Homo sapiens: one gene and its partners. The protein of the gene in region 2 interacts with the protein of the main gene of each other region in a pairwise test. Each region holds a gene or a part of one and is shown on either strand. Other genes may lie near its edges.

The links. Proteins that work in one complex are often made in the same cells at the same time.
Region 1: the proteins of ZNF620 (region 2) and SLIT1 interact in binary tests that used the Homo sapiens proteins (3 or more experiments, as listed by UniProt).
Region 3: the proteins of ZNF620 (region 2) and FHL2 interact in binary tests that used the Homo sapiens proteins (3 or more experiments, as listed by UniProt).

The regions. Positions count from the first base shown.
Region 1 is NC_000010.11:97,000,960-97,008,250, reverse strand, and holds part of SLIT1 (slit homolog 1 protein precursor), read left to right. Parts: intron 1-1,530; coding exon 1,531-1,768; intron 1,769-3,427; coding exon 3,428-3,558; intron 3,559-4,028; coding exon 4,029-4,183; intron 4,184-5,258; coding exon 5,259-5,547; intron 5,548-5,881; coding exon 5,882-6,093; intron 6,094-6,900; coding exon 6,901-7,139; 3' UTR 7,140-7,291. UniProt on the Homo sapiens protein: Thought to act as molecular guidance cue in cellular migration, and function appears to be mediated by interaction with roundabout homolog receptors.
Region 2 is NC_000003.12:40,500,928-40,509,129, reverse strand, and holds the start of ZNF620 (zinc finger protein 620), read right to left. Parts: upstream 3,092-8,202; 5' UTR 2,992-3,091; exon of another isoform or gene 2,930-2,991; intron 2,827-2,929; 5' UTR 2,778-2,826; coding exon 2,754-2,777; intron 390-2,753; exon of another isoform or gene 356-389; intron 318-355; coding exon of another isoform or gene 183-317; intron 1-182. UniProt on the Homo sapiens protein: May be involved in transcriptional regulation.
Region 3 is NC_000002.12:105,389,052-105,396,342, forward strand, and holds part of FHL2 (four and a half LIM domains protein 2), read right to left. Parts: intron 1,177-7,291; exon of another isoform or gene 1,056-1,176; intron 1-1,055. UniProt on the Homo sapiens protein: May function as a molecular transmitter linking various signaling pathways to transcriptional regulation. Negatively regulates the transcriptional repressor E4F1 and may function in cell growth.

The DNA of each region.
Region 1 (7,291 bases), on a different chromosome or scaffold from region 2:
TATTGTAAAGGAATTGTTTTCTTAATTTCATTTTTTGTTTGATTTTTGTGCATTAATCTGGTATTCTACAATCTTGCTGAATTATTTCATTAATTCTAATAGCATTTTACTGGAATCTGTAGGATTTTCTTATATAAGATCATGTCTTCTGGATGCATTTTATTTATCTTTCCTTTCCTCCTTCCCTTGCTTGCCTTCCTTCCTGCCTGCCTGCCTGCTTTCCTTCTTGCCTTCCTGCCTTCCCCCTCTCCCTCCCTCCCTCCCTCCTTCCTTCATTCCTTTTCTTTCCTTTCCCTTTTTCCTAACTGCCATGGCTAGAACTTCCAGTAAAATATTGAATAGAAATTGTGAGAGCAAATATCCTTGTGTTGTTCCTAATCTTAGGAGGAAAAAATTCAGTCTCTCATTATTAAGTATGATGTCAGTTGTGTGTTTTTTGTAGGTGCCCTTTATCAGGTTGATGTAGTTCACTTCTATTCCTAGTTTGTGGAGTGTTTCTGTCATGAAGGAATGTTGAAGTTTGTCAAATGCTTTTTCTGCATCTATTGAGATGAACTTTTTTTTTTTGCTTTTTCATCTATCAATATCATGTATTCCATTAATTGAATTTCAGAGGTCAAACCAGCCTTGCATTCCTGGCGTAAATCTCACTTGGTCATTGTATATAATCCTTTTTATGCTGTACTTGATTAGCTAGTAATTTGTTGAGGATTTTGGTGACAATATTTATAATAGATATTGGTCTGTAGTTTTTTGTGATATCTTTTGTTGTGATGTCTTTGGTTTTGGTATTGGGGTAATGCTGGTCTCATAGAATGAGTTAGAAAGTGTTCCCTCATTTTTTATTTTTTGGACAAGTTTGTGAAGAATTGGTATTTATTGTTTTTAAATGTTTGGTAGAATTCACCAGTTAAACCATCTGGGCCTGGGAAGTTTTCTGATTACTAATTCCTTTACTAGTTATAGGTCTATTCATATTTTCTATTTTTTTCTTGGTTCAGTTTTGGTAGTTTGCATATTTCTAGGAATTTGTGCATTTCATCTGTTTTCTAGTTTGTTGGTATATTGTTGTTCATAGTATTCCTTTATAATTCACTGTATTTCTATGAGGTTGGTAGTAATGTCCCTTCTTTTATTTCTTATTTTAGTAACTTGACTCTTCCCTCTTTATGCTTGTGTCTTAAGTCTCAGTTTTCTTTTCTATAAAATGGGTATAGTAAAATCTGCCTTGCAGAGTTATTGACATTGTCAGTAATCACCTTGGATCTTGTTAAAAAGCAGATTCAGTGGGTTTGCCATTTCTATCAAGTGTCCAGGTAATGTTGACGCTGCTGGACCAGGGACCATACTTGTATCCTGGTATCCTTCTGGCTCTCAGCTCTCTCATGAAAAGTGTTTATTAGGAGCATCTTCTGTCGCTTTAAGAATCCATTTTCCCAAGATGTTTAGTGAATTTCTCTCCAGGGCTGTGGGAGAGGAAGATACTCCCTTCCTCCTTGGCCCTCTCTGACTTATGTCCTTTCCTCTCAGTGGACAGCTCTGTGAGATCCCTCCCCATCTGCCTGCCCCCAAGAGCCCCTGTGAGGGGACTGAGTGCCAGAATGGGGCCAACTGTGTGGACCAGGGCAACAGGCCTGTGTGCCAGTGCCTCCCAGGCTTCGGTGGCCCTGAGTGTGAGAAGTTGCTCAGTGTCAACTTTGTGGATCGGGACACTTACCTGCAGTTCACTGACCTGCAAAACTGGCCACGGGCCAACATCACGTTGCAGGTGCGTGCCAGGGGGCTTGGTCACAGAGGGGAGTCAGGGAGCAGGCGACCCTGGCTTAGGCCAGAGCATCAGGATACATCCCTGCATGGTGCCTGGGGAACTGGAAGGACTCTGTGTAATCAAAACGTTTTGCATATGGGTATCAAAATCTCAGCTTGAACTAGTTTAAGCACAATTAGAAAGGTTATAGTGTCACAAAACCAGGGCAGGGGTGGACATGGTCTCATGGGTAACTGAATCCAGAAAACCAGGCTTGCCATCATCCCTTCCCACCATTTCTTGTCCCAGCTACTCCTCAGTGTCTGCCTCCAGTGCTGCAGACAGGCTTTCTATGTGTGCCTGGAATGTGGCCAGATTTAACTTTGGGCTTATACCTTTAACCAAATGTCCCTAGGGTCCCTTAACTCATCCTTTTCATGCCTTCAGTTCCATCTCAGAACATCTTCATGTTGAGGGGAAAATAAAGCAATTCCCACTTCAGCAGCATTGATGAAATATATCAATATTTTGCTAAACACTTCTTTTGGGGGATGGAGAGGAGAGTGGTTTATATTGCACAGCACATGATAAAGAATGTTAAACTCCTCTGTAGTCATCTTTCTCTTTCCCCCGAATTCCATTCCCTGTCACAAATGCCACATCTTTCTTCCCTCTCTTTTGTCCTCTTTTCCTTTTTTCTCAGAACTCTTCAGCCTCTCAAACATGCGCATTCTGCTCTCTTCCCCTACGTCACCTCTCCAACATCCTATCCACTTACATAGTCTACATGGCAAGACAACAGCTAGCCTAACCGCCAAAAATAAAATTCACCAAAACCCTAACCAGCCATTGCCTCGGGCACATCCTTGGTTTATCCTCATCTTTTACCAGACATTGATTTACAAAGGCTCTTCCTTGCCAGCTCTAATTCGGTCAGCTCAAGGAAGATCTCTGATTGGCCTGGCGTTAGTCACATGCCCATCTCTGAACCAGCTGCTGAGTCCAAGGAGATGGGGCAGTGTGACTGGACAGCTTGGGTCATATGCCCAGCTCCACAGACCAGGGGGCTCAGGGTCTTTACCAGAAGAAACGGAGGGAGCAGGACAAGGCAGGGAAAAATGATCATGGCTCCTACAGCATCTTAGAGGGATCTCCCTCCTGAGGCAAAGATCTCACTTTTGCTTGCACAGTTCCAGCGACAGACACTACCTTCTGAGTGGCTCCTTCCACTAGGCTTGGATGACTCTGGCTGTCAGAGAGCCTTCCTGAACTTGTCCTCTCTGTAGTTCCCACCCTGAGCAGTTAGCTCCCCAAGGCCCACAGGGCAAGGCTACCCACACCCAGCAGACAGGGGTCCCAGTCTAATTTTCCTCTCTGGGAAGATTGTCCTGAGGTCTCCTGGCTGCTCTTCCTGGCACAGAGTTTCCAGGCCTCAGGGACCCATCACCCTCCCCTGCCTGGACCTGGCCAGGCTGGCAGTGGATGGGGCTTGAACCAGAGGCTGCAGCCCCTATTGGTGCCCCCTGGAGGAATGGCCTTGGGGAGGCTGGCCAGGTGGGGGAAGAGCGCTCTGCACAGAGCATCTCTCTTCCAATCTTGGGTGCCCTCTCTGCCCCATCTGCTAGCCTGTGCCGCTGCTGCATGGGGTGGGGTGGGAGAGAAAGTGCCACTGCCCATCAGGTCTCCACGGCAGAGGACAATGGGATCCTTCTGTACAACGGGGACAACGACCACATTGCAGTTGAGCTGTACCAGGGCCATGTGCGTGTCAGCTACGACCCAGGCAGCTACCCCAGCTCTGCCATCTACAGGTAGGGCTTCCTTATGCCCCCCAGCTGCCCTCAGGGGTACGGGACTGCCAGGGCGAGGTCTCCTGGGCCAAAAGCAGGTGGTTATCGAGACCTCTAGAAACCTGGGCTGCCTGAGTTTGAAGGACACTTGAACCATCTGGGTTAGCCCCAGCTTGGGGCTGAGGTCTCTGAGGCCTGTGCAGTGGCCCCATCCTTCCCCATCCCACCACCACCTTAGAGGAGGCTCCTTAATGGGGAGGGGGAGACTTGTAAGTTTGAGACCCCTGCCTCAAACCTCTCAGCCTTCCCCAGGGAGTCAAAGAAGGGGAGTGAAAGGGATCATGCGATAGACCCTTGAGCCCCCACAGTCCTTTTCCTTAGATATTTGGTCTCCTGGGAAGCAGCTACTGGTGTTTCTGGGGAAGTGCCCAGGCAGGGATGGTCCAGACTGATGCCCACTCCCTGGAACGGGGAACCCCCTCTTCCTCCAGTGCTGAGACGATCAACGATGGGCAATTCCACACCGTTGAGCTGGTTGCCTTTGACCAGATGGTGAATCTCTCCATTGATGGCGGGAGCCCCATGACCATGGACAACTTTGGCAAACATTACACGCTCAACAGCGAGGCGCCACTCTATGTGGGAGGTGAGGACCTGGCCCTGGCGGGGCCTCTTTTGCTGTCTGGCCTGAGGCCAGCCAGGAGAGCTGGTGCCTAGGGACTGCACTGTGGGAAATGCCAAGTGGGAAGATGATCCTGGTGGTGGCCAAGCTGCAGGTGGACTGGCCTCGCTGCCTGGAGCCCAGCTGCTCTCTGCCTAGCCCAGACTGACCAAGGAGGATGGATGCTTGGGTTGGGTGCAAGGTCTGGCTTAGGGGAGGCCCTGGGACTGTCCGAGCTATCTGCAACACCTTGGGCACATTTCCTCTTGGTTTTGGGCTAGAAGGGGCTTTTCAATGGCTTCAGGTCCATTCCCAGTCTTGGGGCCCTCTGAGACCCAGAACCACTGCAAGAGACTCAGGCACAGAGTCCCTGTATCAACCAGGGACTGCCTCGGCTGGCCTTAGAGGCTTTGCAGGCTAGATGACCCCGTCTACCACCTGCAAGCATTTCTCGGTATTGATGAGCAGGCTGCTGGATGCAGTGGGGCCATCTCCACCCTGTGGGAGGCGTGCTGAGGCTGGGGCAGAGGTGAGGGATGGCCCTGGGCCTCAGCCCAGCTCCGCAGCTTACTCCTTGTGCAGCTTCAGGCCAGTCATGAGCATCTGTCAAATGGGGCTTAGCAAGCCCTACTTCAGAGGGCTGCTGAGAAGGGACAGCCACAAAAGCAGTGACCTAGCGCCACACGTGATGTCTCGGTCCTGCCCCTTTGCTACGGCTGGGGTCTCTGGGAGGTAAAAGCTAGCGTCCCAGGGAGAGAAGGCGCCTTGGCGAGGGAAGCCAGACTTTAGGAACAGGCACCTCAGAGCCACACGCAGCAGCTGGCCACCACCAGGCCTGATGCCCCAGCTCCAATCACAGAGGAAGCAGCTTTTCCCTTTCTTCTGGGCAAGGAGCCTGGGCCCTCCAAGGTGGCAAAGGACCTTGGATCAGGGTTGCAGAGATGAAGGACAGAGGCCGCAGGCAAGAGGGAAGGCCATGGAGCTGCCCAGACCTCAGGGGTGGGTGCCCGGCATAGCCCGAGCTTTACTCAGCCCAGCTCTGCTCCCTCCCCTACCCCAGGGATGCCCGTGGATGTCAACTCAGCTGCCTTCCGCCTGTGGCAGATCCTCAACGGCACCGGCTTCCACGGTTGCATCCGAAACCTGTACATCAACAACGAGCTGCAGGACTTCACCAAGACGCAGATGAAGCCAGGCGTGGTGCCAGGCTGCGAACCCTGCCGCAAGCTCTACTGCCTGCATGGCATCTGCCAGCCCAATGCCACCCCAGGGCCCATGTGCCACTGCGAGGCTGGCTGGGTGGGCCTGCACTGTGACCAGCCCGCTGACGGCCCCTGCCATGGCCACAAGTGAGCCTGGGGCACTGGGGGAGCCCTTGCCCCTGCCTACCTGTTCCTTCCCCATGGGAAGGGCTGCCTCACAGTTTTCCAACCCATATTAGAACATGTAGCCTAAGCCAGGGTTTTATTACTTTTATCTGGCTTTCACTTTTTATTAATAGGACAAGGCCTATAGGGACACACACATAGTCGCATGCAACTCCCTTTGTTTCAGTTTTGGGAACAGATTAAAGACCTGTGAAGTCAGGGCTGGGTGGGGTGGGCTGTGTCAGGTGGGGCGGGCTGTGTCAGGTGGGGCTTGGCTGGGTTTGTCCTCACAGCGCCTTTTCTCTGTCTCCTCCAGGTGTGTCCATGGGCAATGCGTGCCCCTCGACGCTCTTTCCTACAGCTGCCAGTGCCAGGATGGGTACTCGGGGGCACTGTGCAACCAGGCCGGGGCCCTGGCAGAGCCCTGCAGAGGCCTGCAGTGCCTGCATGGCCACTGCCAGGCCTCAGGCACCAAGGGGGCACACTGTGTGTGTGACCCCGGCTTTTCGGGCGAGCTGTGTGAGCAAGGTCAGGGGCCCCCCTCCTGACGTGCCCTCCCCAGGGTCCCCCACAAATTGCTTTAGCAATTTGACTCTTCCTCCCAGTCTCGGCAGCCCTTCTGTCCCTTCCCAGCCCTGTACCATGGGCTACTATGGGGCTTTCAGAGTCCCTCCACCCTCTGGGCACTGCTCCCAATCTCTCCTGGCCCAGTTTGCCCTGCAGCTCCCTTATTCAGGGTATGCGCCTCTTCTGGCTGGGGTCTCTCCTTGCAGAAGAGACCACCCAGGGTAACAGCTCCTGGCCCAACCTCTGCCTCTTGGCCCCATCACCTCATGACCTGGGAGCGGCAGCAGGAAGTCCGAGGGTTGGGGACTCCTTCCCAGGCCCTCCCTGGCCTGCTTGACCAAGATGGCTTCTGCTGGAATCCGGACTGCTAAGGCTGGGCAGGGAGAAGCTGGAGAAACCCAGAACTCAGGCACCTTAAGGGTCCCCTAGGCTATCCCCTCCCCAGCATGAATCCTTTTCATAATGTTATTGCCCCCGGGGCCTCCAGCCTCTCTTGCACGCCTCTAGCAATGGGGACCCCCCCTCCCTCCAGCAGTTCAGTCTGTCCTGGAGGGCCCTGACGCTAGGACCAGACTGTAGGCCCTGGGAGGAAGCTTGTGCATGTCAGTGGGAGGCGGAAGTATGCTGGGGACAGAGGTGGGGTCTGAGAGCCAAAGGATCCACCCCACAGATGCTGCCCTCCTCCTCCTCTTCCTCCTGCCTCCCTGGAGGCAGCAGCTCACCCATGGGTGTGCCCTGAGGCTTTCTCTTGGTGTCTGTCCCATCCAGAGTCCGAGTGCCGGGGGGACCCTGTCCGGGACTTTCACCAGGTCCAGAGGGGCTATGCCATCTGCCAGACCACGCGCCCCCTGTCATGGGTGGAGTGCCGGGGCTCGTGCCCAGGCCAGGGCTGCTGCCAGGGCCTTCGGCTGAAGCGGAGGAAGTTCACCTTTGAGTGCAGCGATGGGACCTCTTTTGCCGAGGAGGTGGAAAAGCCCACCAAGTGTGGCTGTGCCCTCTGCGCATAGCGCTGGGCGTGGACAGGCCGGTGAGGGCGGGCAAGGGGCCCCAGCCGCTGCAGCAGCGGAGACAGTCGCCAGCAGCTGGGCTGGGGTGCAGGTCATCACAGGACGGCTCCTGGGCAGCTGGGCCCTCCTGGGTGGGGTGGTGCCAGAGCAGC
Region 2 (8,202 bases):
ATGGTATCAAATGTAAATAATCTAAACATCCCAAAAGGCAAACATTGTCATATTGGACTTTTAAGCAAATAAGAACCTACTATCTGCTTAAGATAGTACATTGCTTGAAGAACCTTCAAGAAATGTACGTTAAATATAAAGACAGGGATAAATTAAAAGCAAAAGAATAGAAAAAGACATACCATGACAACATTAGCCAAAGAAAACTGTAAGGCCAGGCATGGTGGCTCATGCCTGTAATCCCAGCACTTTGGGAGGTGGAGGCGGGAGGATGGCTTGCATCTAGGAGTTTGAGAAGAGCCTAGGCAACCTTGTCTCTAGGAAAAAGAAGAGAGCCAAGCACAGTGGTCTGTACCTGTAGTCTCAACTTAGTCTCAACTCCTTGGGAGGATCACTTAGGCCTGGGAGGTGGAGGCTGCAGTGAGCTGTGATTGCACCACTGCACTCAGCCTGGGAGACAGAGTAAGATTGTCTCTAAGGAAAAAAGAAAAAAAAAAAAGCTGCAGTGGCTAAATTCATATAAGACAATGTAGATAGGTAGACAGTCCATATTCTGGGCCATAAAAGAAAGCTCAATAAAATCAAAATGATTCAAGTCATACAAAGTATGTTTTCTGACTGTAATGCAATTAAATTTGATATCACAGAAAGACTCCTGGAAAATCCCCAAATATTTGTAAAGTCAGTAACACACTTCCATAAGAGAATGTACAAAGTATTTTGAACTGAATGAAAATGAAAACACCATGTACTAGAATTTGCGGGATAATGCTAAAGCGGTACTTGGGAGGAAATGTATAGCACTAAATGCCTATTTTACAAAACAAAAAAAAAAGAAAGATCTCAAATCTGTGACTTCAGCTTCCCCCTTAAAACTAAAAAAAGAATAGCAAATTTAACACAAAATAAATATAAAAAAGACATTAAAGATCAAAGTGAAAACTAATGACATAAAACAGAAAAGTAATGAAACCAGAAGCTAGTTCTTAAAGAAAAATTAATAAAATTCATAAACCTCTAGCCAGTGACCAGAAAAAAAGAGAGAATACACAAATCATTAATATTAGTAATAAAAGAAGTGACATCACTGCAGGTAATAAAAGATAAGCACATATTATGAACAACTTTATGTGAATAATTTCTACAACTTAGATAAAATGGATAAGTTCCTTGAAAGGCACAAGTTACCAAAACTCATTTAAGCTGGGCGTAGTGATGCATGCCTGTAGTCCCAGGTACCTGGGAGGCTGAGCGGGGAGGATTGCTTGAGCCCAATTTGAGGTCAGCCTGGGCAACATAGAGAAAACCGTTGTCAAAAAATAAAAATAAATAAATAAAAAGAGATAACCAGAGTAGCCCCTGTATCTACCAAAGGACTCAAAACTGTACTTAAAAACCTTATCAGAAAGAAAACCCCATGCCTAGATAGCTTCACTGTTGAATTCTACCAAACATTTAAGGAAGAAATGCAGTCAACTCTACATAAATTCTTCCAAAATATTAAAGAGGAGGGAATATTTCTCATTCTATGGAACAAAGACATCACAAGAAAAGAAAACTGCAAATCAATACCTCATAAACATAGATACAGAAATTCTAAATAAAATTTTAACAAATTAAATTCAATATATAGTACTAATAAAATAATAATACACCATGACGAAGTCGGTTTTATCCCACCGCAGAGTTGGTTTAATATTTGAAAGAAAAATCATGTAATTCACCACATTAACAAAGAGAGGCTGGGCACGGTGGCTCACGCCTGTAATCCCAGCACTTTGGGAAGCCAAGGTGGGGGAATCACGAGGTCAAGGGATCGAGACCATCCTGGCCAACATGGTGAAACCTGGTCTCTACTAAAAATACAAAAATTAGCTGGGTGTGGTGGCGCGTGCTTGTAGTCCCAGCTACTCGGGAGGCTGAGGCAGGAGAATCGCTTGAACCCCAGAGGTGGAGGGTGCAGTGAACCAGGATCGCGCCACTGCACTCCAGCCTGTCGATAGAGCAAGACTCCATCTCAAAAAAAAAAAAAAAAAAAAACCATATGGTCATCTAAATAGACACAGAAAAAGCAATTGTCAAAATCCAACATCCATTCCTATAAAAACTCTCACCAAAGTAGTACTAGAAGAGAATGCCTGATAAAGGACATTTACAAAACAAAACAAAACAAAAAAGCAAGAAACCTACAGTGAACATCAGTCTTCAGTGTGAAAGATTGAATGCTTTCACTTTAAAAGCATAAATAAGACAAAGATATCTGCTCTCACCACTTCTGTTCAATATTGAAATAATGCTTCTAGCCAGTGCAGTAAGGCAAGACAAAATAAAATAAAAGGCATCCAGACTGGAAAGAAAGGAGTAAAACTATCTTTACTCATAGATGACCTATGTAGAAAATACAATGGAATCTACAAAACAGTTACTAGAATTGCTATACTGAAGAAGTAAGTACTTCTCCAAGCCTGCGGACTAGGGTGAAAGGGGTCTTTATTGGATGTAATAATGCAGATTTCCACATTTCATAATTTTTATTTTTAAGCTGGCTTCAAATGCCAAATCCCAACCAATCCCCCCACACTCACTAGTTTTCTAGTCTTAATTTGGGCATTCTCACCTCTCCATCCCTCTCATAGTGACAGATGCACAATGGAAGCCACTGGCCTACACAACTCAAGATCTGAATGCAGAGGTGACACCTGCTCTCTCTTGACATCTAAAGGGTGGGAGGGAGGGAGAGGATGCTCACTCACCTGGCGCCAAGCGGTCTGGAACATGGCTGGCGTCCCAGCTTCACACACTGCCTCAGGGTTCGGAGAAGTGAAACTGAAGAGAAAATAAAGAAGCACCGGTGAGATTGATGCTGCCTCGCACCCCGCAAATGCCCTCTGTGCTACTTGGGCCCCTCTCCTTTCCGCCAACTCCTCACCCCAAAAAGCAAAGGGGTTGCAAAACCAGGCAGAACAAGCCCCAGGAAAACCAATCAGTTACCCGGACCGCGAACCTCTTCAGCTCGGACCGCGAATCCCGCGCGGCGCAGGCGCAGATAAAGCGTGGAAATTCCACCTGCCGCCGACACCGGGGAAAGCTTGAGACCCTCCGCCGGAAGTGCGTTTTCCATGCCCCTCCTCTCTAGGAACCTGGGAAGTTGCCAGTCTCTGTGGTTTCCTACCCCCGCCGTCAGCGCCAGTGTCCCTACTGCCTGAGACAACACGGGCCCGAGCGGGCGGCCCCAGGCAGGGGTCCTGCAGCGCCCACACCTGGTAGCTCCTTCGGGGCATGACGTCTGGCCAGCTCAGGCCACAGAATGGTTACTATCCTGGGTATTATTCGTGGTTATCTGGCATTTGCCACTCTGGGTGTCCTTCCAGATAATGAAGGGACCATCGCGCCCTTCACATGCGCCAAAACTGTCTGGATTGTGTGGGTGCGCTGCAGTGGGAAAAGTGGGTGTGGGGAAAGGCGAACCCATTACTCAGAAGGCCGAATGTGTATGGACTACGTAGGTCCAGAAACCCAGCTGCACCACTTGCTAGTTGTGTGACCTGCAGCAAGTTTCTTTGCCCCGGTTTCCTTGTCTATTAAATGGGTATTATGATGGTGGTACCAACCTCTTGAGGCTGTTCAGGGTTAATTCATTAAATTAGTTAATTGATAGGTAAATTATTTACAGTTGTGCCTGGCACATAGTATGTACTCGTGAGTTTGTATTGTTTTGTTTTCCAATTGTGTTTTTTGAAGACACAAAATAGGTGCTGCTGGGACTCCAATATGTGGCGTGCTTTAGGGAAATAGATTTTTTTAAGGACAATTTTCGAAGTTTAGCGAAAGAGCTATTAACATTTGGCTTAGAGCCCTTTCCTGCCCTGTACTGGGATGTGTGTCCCGGCCCAGCCTGGAAACAGATTTTAGTTATTCCTTCCACAGGAATTAGATTTATCCACCACTTTCAAAACAAGTCCTGCCATGGAGAGTATATTATGTATCTACTGCTGGATAATAAACTACTCTAATGCTTTGTGGCTAAAAACAATAAACATTGTTATCTTTTGACAGTTTCTGTGGACCCAGAATTCAAGAGCAGCTTGGCTGGGTGGTACTGGCTGAGGGTCTCTGCTGAGGTTGCAGTCAGGTGTCATGTGGGGCTGAAGTCATCTGAAGCTTGACTGAGTTTGGAGGATCCACCTCCAAGGTGGTTTACTCACATGGCTGTCAAGTGGGTGCTGGTTGTTGGCAGGAAGCGTCAGTTCCTTCCCATGTGAGGGTTTTCACAACATGGCATGTAGCTTTCTCCCAAAGTGAGCAATCCAAGAGGCCAAGGCCAAAGCTTTTATGACCTAGTTTTGGAAATCATGCATCATGATTTCCTCAATACATTCTCCTCAGATTAGTCATGATTCAGTGTGGGAAGAGATACACAAGGTTTGAATGCCAGGATATGAGAACCATTGGGAGCCATTGTGGGGCCACCTAGCACAGAGATTTTAACTGTCACAGAAACAGTTCATTTTATAAAATCTATAGTATTTTCACTTTAAAGTTTATGCACAGCACTTGTTTTAAATAATTAGATTTCCAGAAACAATGGCATGACAAGGACATACATGTGCATACTGTCCCTTCGCTAAACCTATTAAAATGAACATTTACCATGAGTGGGTGCACATAAACGTACATACATATACACCACAAATTCTAAACAGTATTAGCCAGTGGAAAAAAACATGATAAATTGGACTTAATCAAAGTTAAATCTTCTGCTTTTCAGAAGATACTTTTAGAGAATGAAAAGACAAGCCACAGACTGGGAGAAAATACCAAAAATATTTGATAAAAGACTTGTTTCCAAAATATATAAAGGACTCTCAAAACTCACTCATAAGAAAATAAACCAATTTTTAAAAATAGGCAAAAGATTTGAACAGATACTTCACCAAAGAAGATATATGGAAAGCAATTAAATATTTGAAAAGATGCTCAACATTGTTAGTCATTAGAGAAATGCAAATTAAAACCGCAGTGAAACAGTATTACACACTTACTAGAAAAGCTAAAAGTAGAGACAACATCAAGTGTAGGCAAAGATGTATCAGAAGTGGAACCCATACAATACTGATGGAAATGTACAATGGCACAGTCTCTTTGGAAAAACTTTGCAGATTCTTTAAAAATTAAATATACACCTACCTTATTATCTAGCCATTTCACTCTTGTTATTTACCCAAGAGAAATGAAAACATATGTCCTTACATTACAAAGACTTGCATACAAATTTTCATAACAGCTTAATTTATAATAGCCAAAAACTGGAAACAATTCAAATGGCCATCATTTGAGTTAAGTTGTGGCATATCCATACAGTGGAATACTACTCAGTAATAACAAGGAATGAACTACTGATATATATGCAACAACATGGGTGAATCTCAAAATAATTCTGTGTTGTGAAAGACATCACACCAAAAAAAATAATAACTTTAAAAAGAGTACATACTGTGTGATAGCATTTATATAAAATTCTAGAAAAGGAAAACTATAGTAAAAGAAAACAGATTGGTGGTTTCTTGGGGCTGGAGGCAGGAGAGGAGCAGGCTGGAATGGAGAGATTATAAAAGGGCATAAGGAAACTTTTTGGGGTATGATTATGTTTGTTATCTTGATTGTGTTATTTTTTGAGAGACATATACATATGGCAAAACTTATCAAATCATACACTTTATGCATGGCTTATTGTATGTCAGTGATACCTCAATTTAAAAAATATATACATACTAGAAAGACAACATAATCTTAAAATGGGTTGTGTCCTTAAATCTAACCCTAGTTCTAATCCTGATAGGACAAACTTGAAGGAAAAAGCCATTCATCAGGGAGGAGAATCTGCAGGCTGAAAATGCTCTCTAAATTCTAGGAAATTTTAATGGGGAAAAACCAGCAACAAGACATATCCTAGTGAAATTACGAAAATTTAAGATTTAAAGTTCTGCAAATTTCCAGACTGAAAAGGAAGCAAAATCAGGCTGCCTCAGACTTCTTCTTGGCAATATTAGATGCCAAGACACACACATGGAGCAGGGTCTGGAGTAATGCTTCTCAAACCTTAGTGTGTCCACGAAGTCACCTGGTAGCATTGTCAAAGAGTAGAGTTTGATTCAGTGAGCTTGTAGTTCTGATAAATCTCCCAGGTGATGCCAATGCTGCTGGTCTTCAGGTGACAATTTGAGTAGCAAAGGTCTACAGAAGTGGTTATTTGGCTGGGCGCGGTGGCTAACACCTGTAATCCCAGCACTCTGGGAGGCTGAGGCAGGCAGATCACCTGAGGTCAGGAGTTTGAGACCAGCCTAGCCAATATGGTGAAACCCTGTCTCTACTAAAAATACAAAAAAAATTTAGCTGGGCATGGTGGCACATGCCTGTGATCCCAGCTACTCAGGAGGGTAAGGCAGGAGAATTGCTTGAACCTGGGAGGTGGAGGTTGCAGTGAGCCAAGATCGCGCCACTGCACTCCAGCCTGGGTGACAGAGCAAGACTCCATCTCAAAAAAAAAAAAAAAAAAAAAAAAAAAGTGGTTCTTTGTAGCATCACCTTATAATTACCTAGGGAATTAAAAAAAAAATACTGATACCTGGGACCTGCTCCCAGAGATTCTGAAATAATTGGTCTAGGATTCAGCCTAGGCATTGGTATTAAAAAACAAAAACAAAAACACAACATCCCAAGTGGTTCTAATGGGCAGTTGGGTTAAGAGCCTCTGGCATGGAGTGTTGAGGGAAATGAACTTAGTCTAGGAAGTATATGCTCAACATGGTACGGTCTTTGTAGAGTATCTATCAGCATACAACAGCCCCTTTAACTGCCCTCCTCACCAACAGCAGTGAGTCCCAGATAGCTGTGTAAATACTGTGTAATTCTGCTCCCCCACCCATAGTTGAATTAATCAAGAATGAATATATGATCTGAGTGGGGCCAGACCACACTCTTTCCCTGTAATTAGGAGGTGAGATAACGAACAGTCATTCCTTAGCAGGGTCTAACTGTGGACAGCCCTACTCTTGAACAAGTGCCTTTTTTTTTCTTTTTGAGACAGAGTCTTGCTCTGTCACCCAGGGTGGAGTGCAGTGGTGCGATCTTGGCTCACTGCAACCTCCACCTTTGGGATCAAGTGATTCTCCTGCCTCAGCCTCCCAAGTAGCTGGGATTACAGGCACCCGCCACCACACCTGGCTAATTTTTGTATTTTTAGGAGAGAGGGGGTTTCATCATGTTGGCCAGGTTGGTCTTGAACTCCAGGTGTGAGCCACTGTGCCTGGCCTTGAACAATTGTCTTCTGAATGTTTAGTTTCTGGTACAGAATGAATCAGAATTCAAGGCAATCTTGGAGCTTAAGTTTTTTTCCGCACTCCATCCATTTATACAGCTGCCATCACCGTGGAGTTTTCTGATGCTAAAGAAGGTGGGTGTTCTGGCCGGGCAGGTGTTTCATGCCTGTAATCCCAGCACTTTGGGAGGCAGAGGACGGGCCAATCACTTGAAGCCAGGAGTTCGAGACTGGCCTGGCCAACATGGCGAAACCCCGTCTCTATTAAAAATACAAAAATTAGGATGGGTGAGGTGGCTCACGCCTGTAATCCCAGCACTTTGGGAGGCCAAGACGGGTGGATCACAAGGTCAGGAGTTTGAGACCAGCCTGGCCAATATGGTGAAACCCCATCTCTGCTAAAAATATAAAAATTAGACGGGCATGGTGGCGGGCACCTATAGTCCCAGCTACTTGGGAGGCTGAGGTAGGAGAATCGCTTGAACCTGGGAGGTGGAGGTTGCAGCGAGCTGAGCTCGTGCCATTGCACTACAGCCTGGGCGACAGAGTGAGACTCTGTCACAAAAAAAAAAAAAAAAAAAAAAAAAAAAAAAAAAAAAAAAAAATACAAAAATTAGCCAGGTGTGGTGTGGTGACACGCACTGTAATCCCAGCTACTCGGGAAGCTGAGGCAGGAGAATTGCTTGAACCCGGGAAGCAGAGGTTGCAGTGAGCCAAGATTGCACCACTACACTTCAGCCTGGGTGACAGCACGAGACTCCATCTCAAGAAAAAAAAAAAAAAAAGAAGGTGGGTGTTCTGATTAAAAGCTTGTCCATTCCCTACATGGCGTACCGTTTCTCCCTATGTGGATTTTCTGGTGCTGTGAAAGTTCTGACCTATAT
Region 3 (7,291 bases), on a different chromosome or scaffold from region 2:
AGATCATCTTTCAAGAATTCATTCTTGGATATTTCTGTGTTTACAGAATAATTCTCTTCCAAGAGCAATAAATATGCAGCTGGACACATGCGGCAAGATCCGTCCTTCTAAATCACTCTTCCTGGAGTTAAAGAAAACATTGTCTGGACATTCTTGTGATAACATCACAAGATGAGGCTCTTGAGCACTTGAATTATTATTCTGAAGCCCAACGTATAAATATCCTTTGTACCGCAGCCATCTCGAGTTGGAGCAGCCATGCTGGCACAAGATTCAATGCTTTCCTGTAATTGTTCAGTTATTGGCCTTGAAAGTTGCTGTCATTTATTTCATCACAATTGAGAGCTGTTTTTCCAACATATATGTTTTTCCAATAAAGGGTGTGATTTAGCTGTGGGACAAGAGGCTCACTGCCCATTCCATGCCCACAAACATAAGAATAATAATTTGGGAATTTGAAATAAGAACGATGAAAGGACAGAGAACTATAAATTGCGGAATTGTAAAAGCTGGAAACAAATCCCCAGATTATCTATGACAACTTCCTCATTCTATGGATGGAAAAACTGAAGCCCACGCATATTTATGAAAAAGAGGGTCCACTGAGCTTTCTCAAATAGCCGTCTGACTTACAGAAAATGAACTCCCAGTCTAACTTGAAAGGCCGTCTGTGTGGGTCAGGACAAGCACCAGCCCTGCTAGGGAAGGGAGACAGTCTACAGCCTCTGTTAATGTCTGCAGAGCTCCATTTATGTTGGCAGCTGGTGAAAGGGGTACACCTGTTTTCCTCTGAGGTAATAATCGTGATCACGGTGCTCATATACCTGATATGTGTTTTCCACTTCCTCTGATTCTACAGGACCAGGACAGAAAAAAACAAAAACAAAAAAAATCTGGCCAGGTGCGGTGGCTCACGCCTGTAATCCCAGCACTTTGGGAGGCTGAGGCGGGTGAAACACGAGGTCAGGAGATTGAGACCATCCTGGCTAACACGGTGAAACCCCATCTCTACTAAAAATACAAAAAAAAAATTATCCGGGTGTGGTGGCGGGCACCTGTAGTCCCAGCTACTTGGGAGGCTGGGGCAGGAGAATGGCGTGAACCAAGAGGTAGAGCTTGCAGTGAGCTGAGATCGTGCCACTGCACTCCAGCCTGGGCGACAAAGCGAGACTCCGTCTAAAAAAATAAAAAAATAAATCTAAGAGAATAAACTCTGAAAATAAGTAGGGCTCCACATTTGCTCAAAGTACGACTGAGGTTATGAATGTCATCATGGTGAATGTCATCATCAGTGATATGATGAATATCATTATCAGTGATACCAGCTCCCAGCAGGAACAGTAGCAGCTGCTATCTGCTCAGTGGGTCCACCTGGGAGGAGGCACTTGGCCCTGTGGTTCAGCTCCTAATTCTACAGAATTCTTTCTGAGAGTGGTGGATCCCTCTTCTACCTTGTTCCTCATCTTCTAAGAGGACACTAGAGTTCTACAAAGAGCAGAGAGCATTTCTACTCCAACCAACAGGGCAGAGCATAAAATGAGCAACTGCTGCTACCTAGGAGCACAGCAGGATGCACTGTGTGAAAGCAGGCCCCTGAAGGAGTTCCACACAGTTACATACTGCACAAGCCCTGAGCATCAGAATAAAAAGTCCATGAGCTAATAAGCAAGCTCAGAGCTTCCCTTCTATTACAACATGTTTAAAAGTATACCTATTGTCCTGTATTAGAAATCTCCTATAACTTGCATTTTTTTTTTTTTTTTGAGACAGAGTCTTGCTGTGTCACCCAGGCTGGAGTGCAGTGGCATGATCTCAGCTCACTGCAGCCTCCACCTCCCGGGTTTCAGTGATTCTCCTGCCTCAGCCTCCTGGGTTGCTGGGATTACGGGCACACGCCACCACACTCAGCTAATTTGTGTGTGTGTGTATGTGTGTGTGTGTATGTGTATTTTTTTTTTTTTAGTAGAGACGGAGTTTCACCATGTTGGCCAGACTGGTCTCAAACTCCTGACCTCAGGTGATCCGCCTGCCTTGGCCTCCTAAAGTGCTAGGATTACAGTCATGAGCCACTTGCATTTTTTACATCCCATAAATACCTGATTGCTCATTCATTCACTGAATAAACATTGGTTGAGCTGGAACTATGTGTCTAAAGTCATGAAAAGTGCAGAAGATACAAAGATGAATAAAATGCAGGCCCCTCCCCTCAAGGGACTTGTTATCTAGTGAGGAAAAGAGATATATACCAAACAGACTACCAAGCCCCTTACTCAGTGCGTGCTGGAGGTGCACAGGTATGATGGGCACGCAGAGGAGGAGCCCCTGAGAGAGCAGGCAGGCATCCCAGAGGAGATGCTATCTGTGCTAGGAACAGGTCAGCCAGGTGATATGGCAGGTCAGGTCAAGGGGTGGAGTAGGCAAAGCCAGAGACATGAGAGACAGAGTAGGGTAGGCAGAGAGCCCAGGAAGATGGAAGACCCAGTCAACAGCCAAGGCAATGAGGGCCTGGATGCCTTGTTCATGGACTTGGGTATGCCTCGCAGGCAGTGGAGAAACGGACAGCCCAGTGAAAGTTTACTGCATGGAAGCCTGCCTTTACTATGCAAGACAGGGGGCAATGACTCCTAAAAAATGTATCAGGGTATCAGAGCCCATTTCTGAATGATTTCTTCAAATAAAAGTAGGACATCTTGGTTCTACAAGGACTTATTAACCTAATTGTGTACAATCCATTTACTCTCTGTGAACTCCACATCCCTCCTGACAGGTTATCAATAATTCCTGCTCCTTAGCTGGTACACAGGAATGCTGAAAGCATCAGGCAACAGCCTGCAGGGAGATGCCCAAACATAAGGCGCAACCCCTCCTTTTTATTTCACTGAATCAAATTCCAAATCACAGTTTCCTGGAGTTCTTATTCCTCACCAAGCTAAATCATTCCATGATGTCATTACCCCTTCGGCCCTGAATAGGGTATTTGAAAAAGCTGGATCTTAGGGTACAGGCTTGACTCCAGGCCAAGGGAACTGCAATGGGTGAGGCAGGTGCCAGGTGCAGCTCGGAGGTCTGGGGATGGCCCAGGGAAGGCTTTGATCTCTGAGTCTCTCGCTAGCCCAGCTTTGACTCAGATGTAAGAATAGGTCGGGTACAGAGGCTCATGCCTGTAGTCCCAGTACTTTGGGAGACCGAGGCAGACATATCGTTTGAGCCCTGTAGTTCAAGACCAGCCTGGGCAACATGGAGAAACCCCATCTCTACAAAAAACACAAAAAATTTGCCGGGTGTGGTGGCATGCATTTGTAGTCCCTACTACTCAGGAGGCTGAGGTGGGAGGATCTTGAGCCCAGGAGGTCGAGGCTGCAGTGAGCCATGATAGCATCACTGCTCTCCAGCCTCAAGGAAACAGCCTCATGGTGACACAGACCATGTCTCCAAAGAAAAAAAAGAAAAAGAAATAAAAAGGATGTAAGAATAAAGGTTCAGAGGGCCAGGGAGCAACAATGCACTCTACTACTCACAATTCATACTAATTTTAAAAGTTCACAAGCTCATCAGTGTGATCTATTTTTAAATTTTCAGATTCAAAAACTGTAAAACAAAGTATGAGTGGGGAAAGTATCAAAGCTGGAGGAAAATAAAGGGAAAAGGAAACAGAAAGAGTAAAGAGAAGGGGAGAAGGGTGGTGACAGGACAAAAAAAGGAAGGAGGAGGGTAAATGAAATGAGGCAGAAGAGAGGCAAGGACCCTGCATGCCAGGAAGCTTTTTTTTTTTTTTTTTTTTTTTTCTTGAGACAGTGTCACTCTATCACCCAGGCTGGAGTGCACTGGCCCTATCTTGGCTCACTTCAGCCTCCACATCCTAGGTTCAAGCAATTCTCCTGTCTCAGCCTCCCAAGTAGCTGGTATTACAGGCGTGCATCACCGCACCCAGCTAATTTTTTTTTTTTTTTTAACCAGAAAGATTTCGATCAAAGGAGGGGCTGCCATGACAGACAGCCTCCCTTGGCTTGCTGGCTCAGGCCTTGGAGTTCCAGGAGCCTGGCAGATCCCTACAGGTAAAGCCTGAAGAGGTCAGATTAGCAAAAGAAGTCTATTTAAGCATCCTTTTCAATGCACCTTTTATTGACTACCTACTTTGATCTGACCCCAATGGGCCCATTTTCTCCTCCCCCTTTGAAACCCCAAGTGCTTCTCCCTATCAACCCTGCTGCAGGAGGCTCCTCTAACATAGCCATTTCCTAAGGAGAAATCTGTGAACGTCCCCAAGCCCTTCCTGCATGCAGCCCTTCAACACATGCAAAAGCAGCTTCGGTAAGTCAGTCCCTGTATCTTTAGATGTCACCGGGGATCCGCAAGGGATATTCAATTACTTATCAATAATCAACCAGAGCTTTCCAGAGACAATTAGGAAAACTGGTCTATGTGGGCTCTTTTAAAAAATACATTATAAAAGTGCAGTGTTTTCATGCAATTGCCCCGTCTTCTACCAACCGTAAGCATTGGGAAGGGTGCCCACTACCTGTCGCTGAGACCTCACCAGCAGGGAACACACACAGGACCAGGGGCTTTGTGAATACTTGTGGAATGGATGAACAAATGAATTGACGGGTGGATGAATACAAACATGTCAGAGTACAAACATACAGGCAAAAATCAAGCATGAAAAATTAGAAACATATTATGTGAACAATCCACTCTGCATAGCAAACCCAACATGTAATGTGGTTTGGCATATGACATCATGAGCTTCCATCGCTGCCCTCGTCCCTCCTTCCAGATAAGCTGCTGCTTCCGCAGCGGATATAACTCTTCTTATTGTGTTTGGACTCCAATCCCATGTGAACACACAGCTGCACAGTCCAGGATGCAGCCTGGCCAGGTCAAGAAGCAAAAAGCCAGCTGGGAGTCGTGCCCACTTTGGGAAGAACGCACAGATCCCCAACACGGGCTCCAGGTGTCAGCAGAAGGCCCTGATGTTCTACAGACATGTGATGCCTATAATCAAAGATCCTCCATTCAAAGGCACGGGACTCTCACACCTGGAAATGTGCTCAGAGAATACCCCGCACCATTTTATTTTCCTACGGATGGGAGTATCTACACACAAAAACCGCTCACCCCCAACACTCTTCATTTGTCTAGCTAAACGGGTTGTTTTAAACAGAAATTCTGATAAAACGGAGAGGGCCATCATGTCAAGGAAAGTTGCTGTTTTATAAACTAGAATAATGGATCAAGCCTTGGAGTCCCTAAAGAGAGAGGATCTCTTGAGCCCAAGAGTTCGAGGCTGCAGTGAGCTGTAGTGCTGCCACTATACTCCAGCCTGGACCACAGTGTAAGACCCGGTCTCTAAAAAAAAAAAAAAATTTATATCAGTTGGATATGGTGATGTGTGCCTACAGTCCTAGCTACCTGGGAGACTGAGGCAGGAGGACTGCTTGAGCCCAGGGGTTTGAGGCTTTAGTGAGCTATGATGGCACCTGTGAAAAGCTACTGCACTCCAGCCTGAGCAACAGAATGAGACCCTGGGAAAAAAAAAAGAAAAGAAGGAAAGAAAGAAAGAAAGAGAAAAAAGAAAGAAAGAAAAAAAGTATCTAGCATCCACTTGAAATCTATTTTTAAATTGTTGGATTTTAAACAATCTTAGTTTGTAAGGTATAAAATTGACTATGCTTACCACTGTATAATATATTTACAGATTAATTTAATAAGCCTTTACTAAATGCATGTACAGACAGGTGTCAGAGGTGTATTATAGTTTACATAAACTGGTAACTTCCAACTTAAAAAAAATAAATAAACATCTTCATCTCTGGTGGTTCTGCATGAGGCAATGTTTGAATAAGGTAAACTGCTGTCTTCTGAATTATCTTTTGAATATTGAATACTAAAAATAAAGGGAAAACAATAAATATCAAATTTCTGATCTGAAGTCCATGACTACAAGAGGAGTTACACTTGTTTTGATGTCGTTCAGCCTTTTGAACCCAGCCGACAAGAATGTGTTGAGTAACCACTGTTTTCCATGTGCTACGTGAGGCACTGGGAAGCTGAGATAAAACACACAGTCTATGAAGGAGTTCCAGTCTAGTTCTAGCTCCAAATAATTTAAATCACCTTTAAGATCCCATCTTGTCATTTAATCTCAAAACACATCAATTGCAGCCATGCAGGACAACCATAGCTGCACACGCTAGAATGGCGGGTGGCCTCGGGTCCGTCAATCACACCAGTGTGGGGACCAAGGGAGACTCCATCCTGCATGCTATGGCTCTACCATGCCTTCCCTGAGTGAGTTACGAACACTTCTACACCTACAAAACGAAAACCACCCACTCTTCTTCATGGCAGGGGTCTCCTCTCACCTCCCAAGTGCGGCTCACTGTTCACTCTCCCAGCTATCTGAGGTGCCTATGACCCCCACCCCCATGCTGGCCTTTCTCTTGGCATCCAGCAGCTTCCATGAATGACTGGCCACCTCCTTCTCACTGCAGTCCTGCCACTCTGTGGGGTTTCTCTGGCGCACTGCAACAGGACTCTGTCCCGAGAGGCTTGCACAGTTCCTTCTGCTTCCTTCATTGACTGCCTGCTTCTTAGTGACTCCAAAAGTTGTATTAACCCAAGCAGACAGGTCTATTTCCTTGTTGACTGACAAGCTCCATATTTACATACTGCAAGGACATTCTGGCATTAATTCTGTTCACCCATGAAAACAGGGCAGCTGCTTCTGCCACAGACATCCCACATCTCACTCAAGACCATATGACGGGAGGATCTTGAAGCCGCAGACAGAATCAGGCTAGTAAAGGCGTGGGCCACCGAAGGCTGAGGATGAGTGTGAAGTCTAAGTTCACACCAGGCAAGACACCACCCACGAGCACTGGGATGGACCTGGGAGACCAGACGCTGCTCCAGACCCCTCGTGACATCCCCATGCAGAGAGCATGTTTTACAGCAAGAGGAAAGCCAAGACTCCCAGGAGCAAAGTAGTGATCAAATCTTAAAAAAAGGGAGAATGACAGTTGGTGGGGAGACTTTTTAAATAGATGTTACCAGAGAGCTGTAATAGTCAGGGTTTTCTAGAAAAATAGAACCAACAAGAGATGTACATAGAGAGATTTATCGCAATGATTTAGCTCACACAATTACGAAGGTGAAAAAGTCCCAAGACCTGCAGTCAGTAGGCTGGAGACCCAGGAGAGCCGATGGTGCAAATTGCAGTCTGAAAAGAGGAGACTCTATAGACCCAAGAAGAGCCGATGTTTCAGTGTGAGTCCAAAGGCGGAAAGGA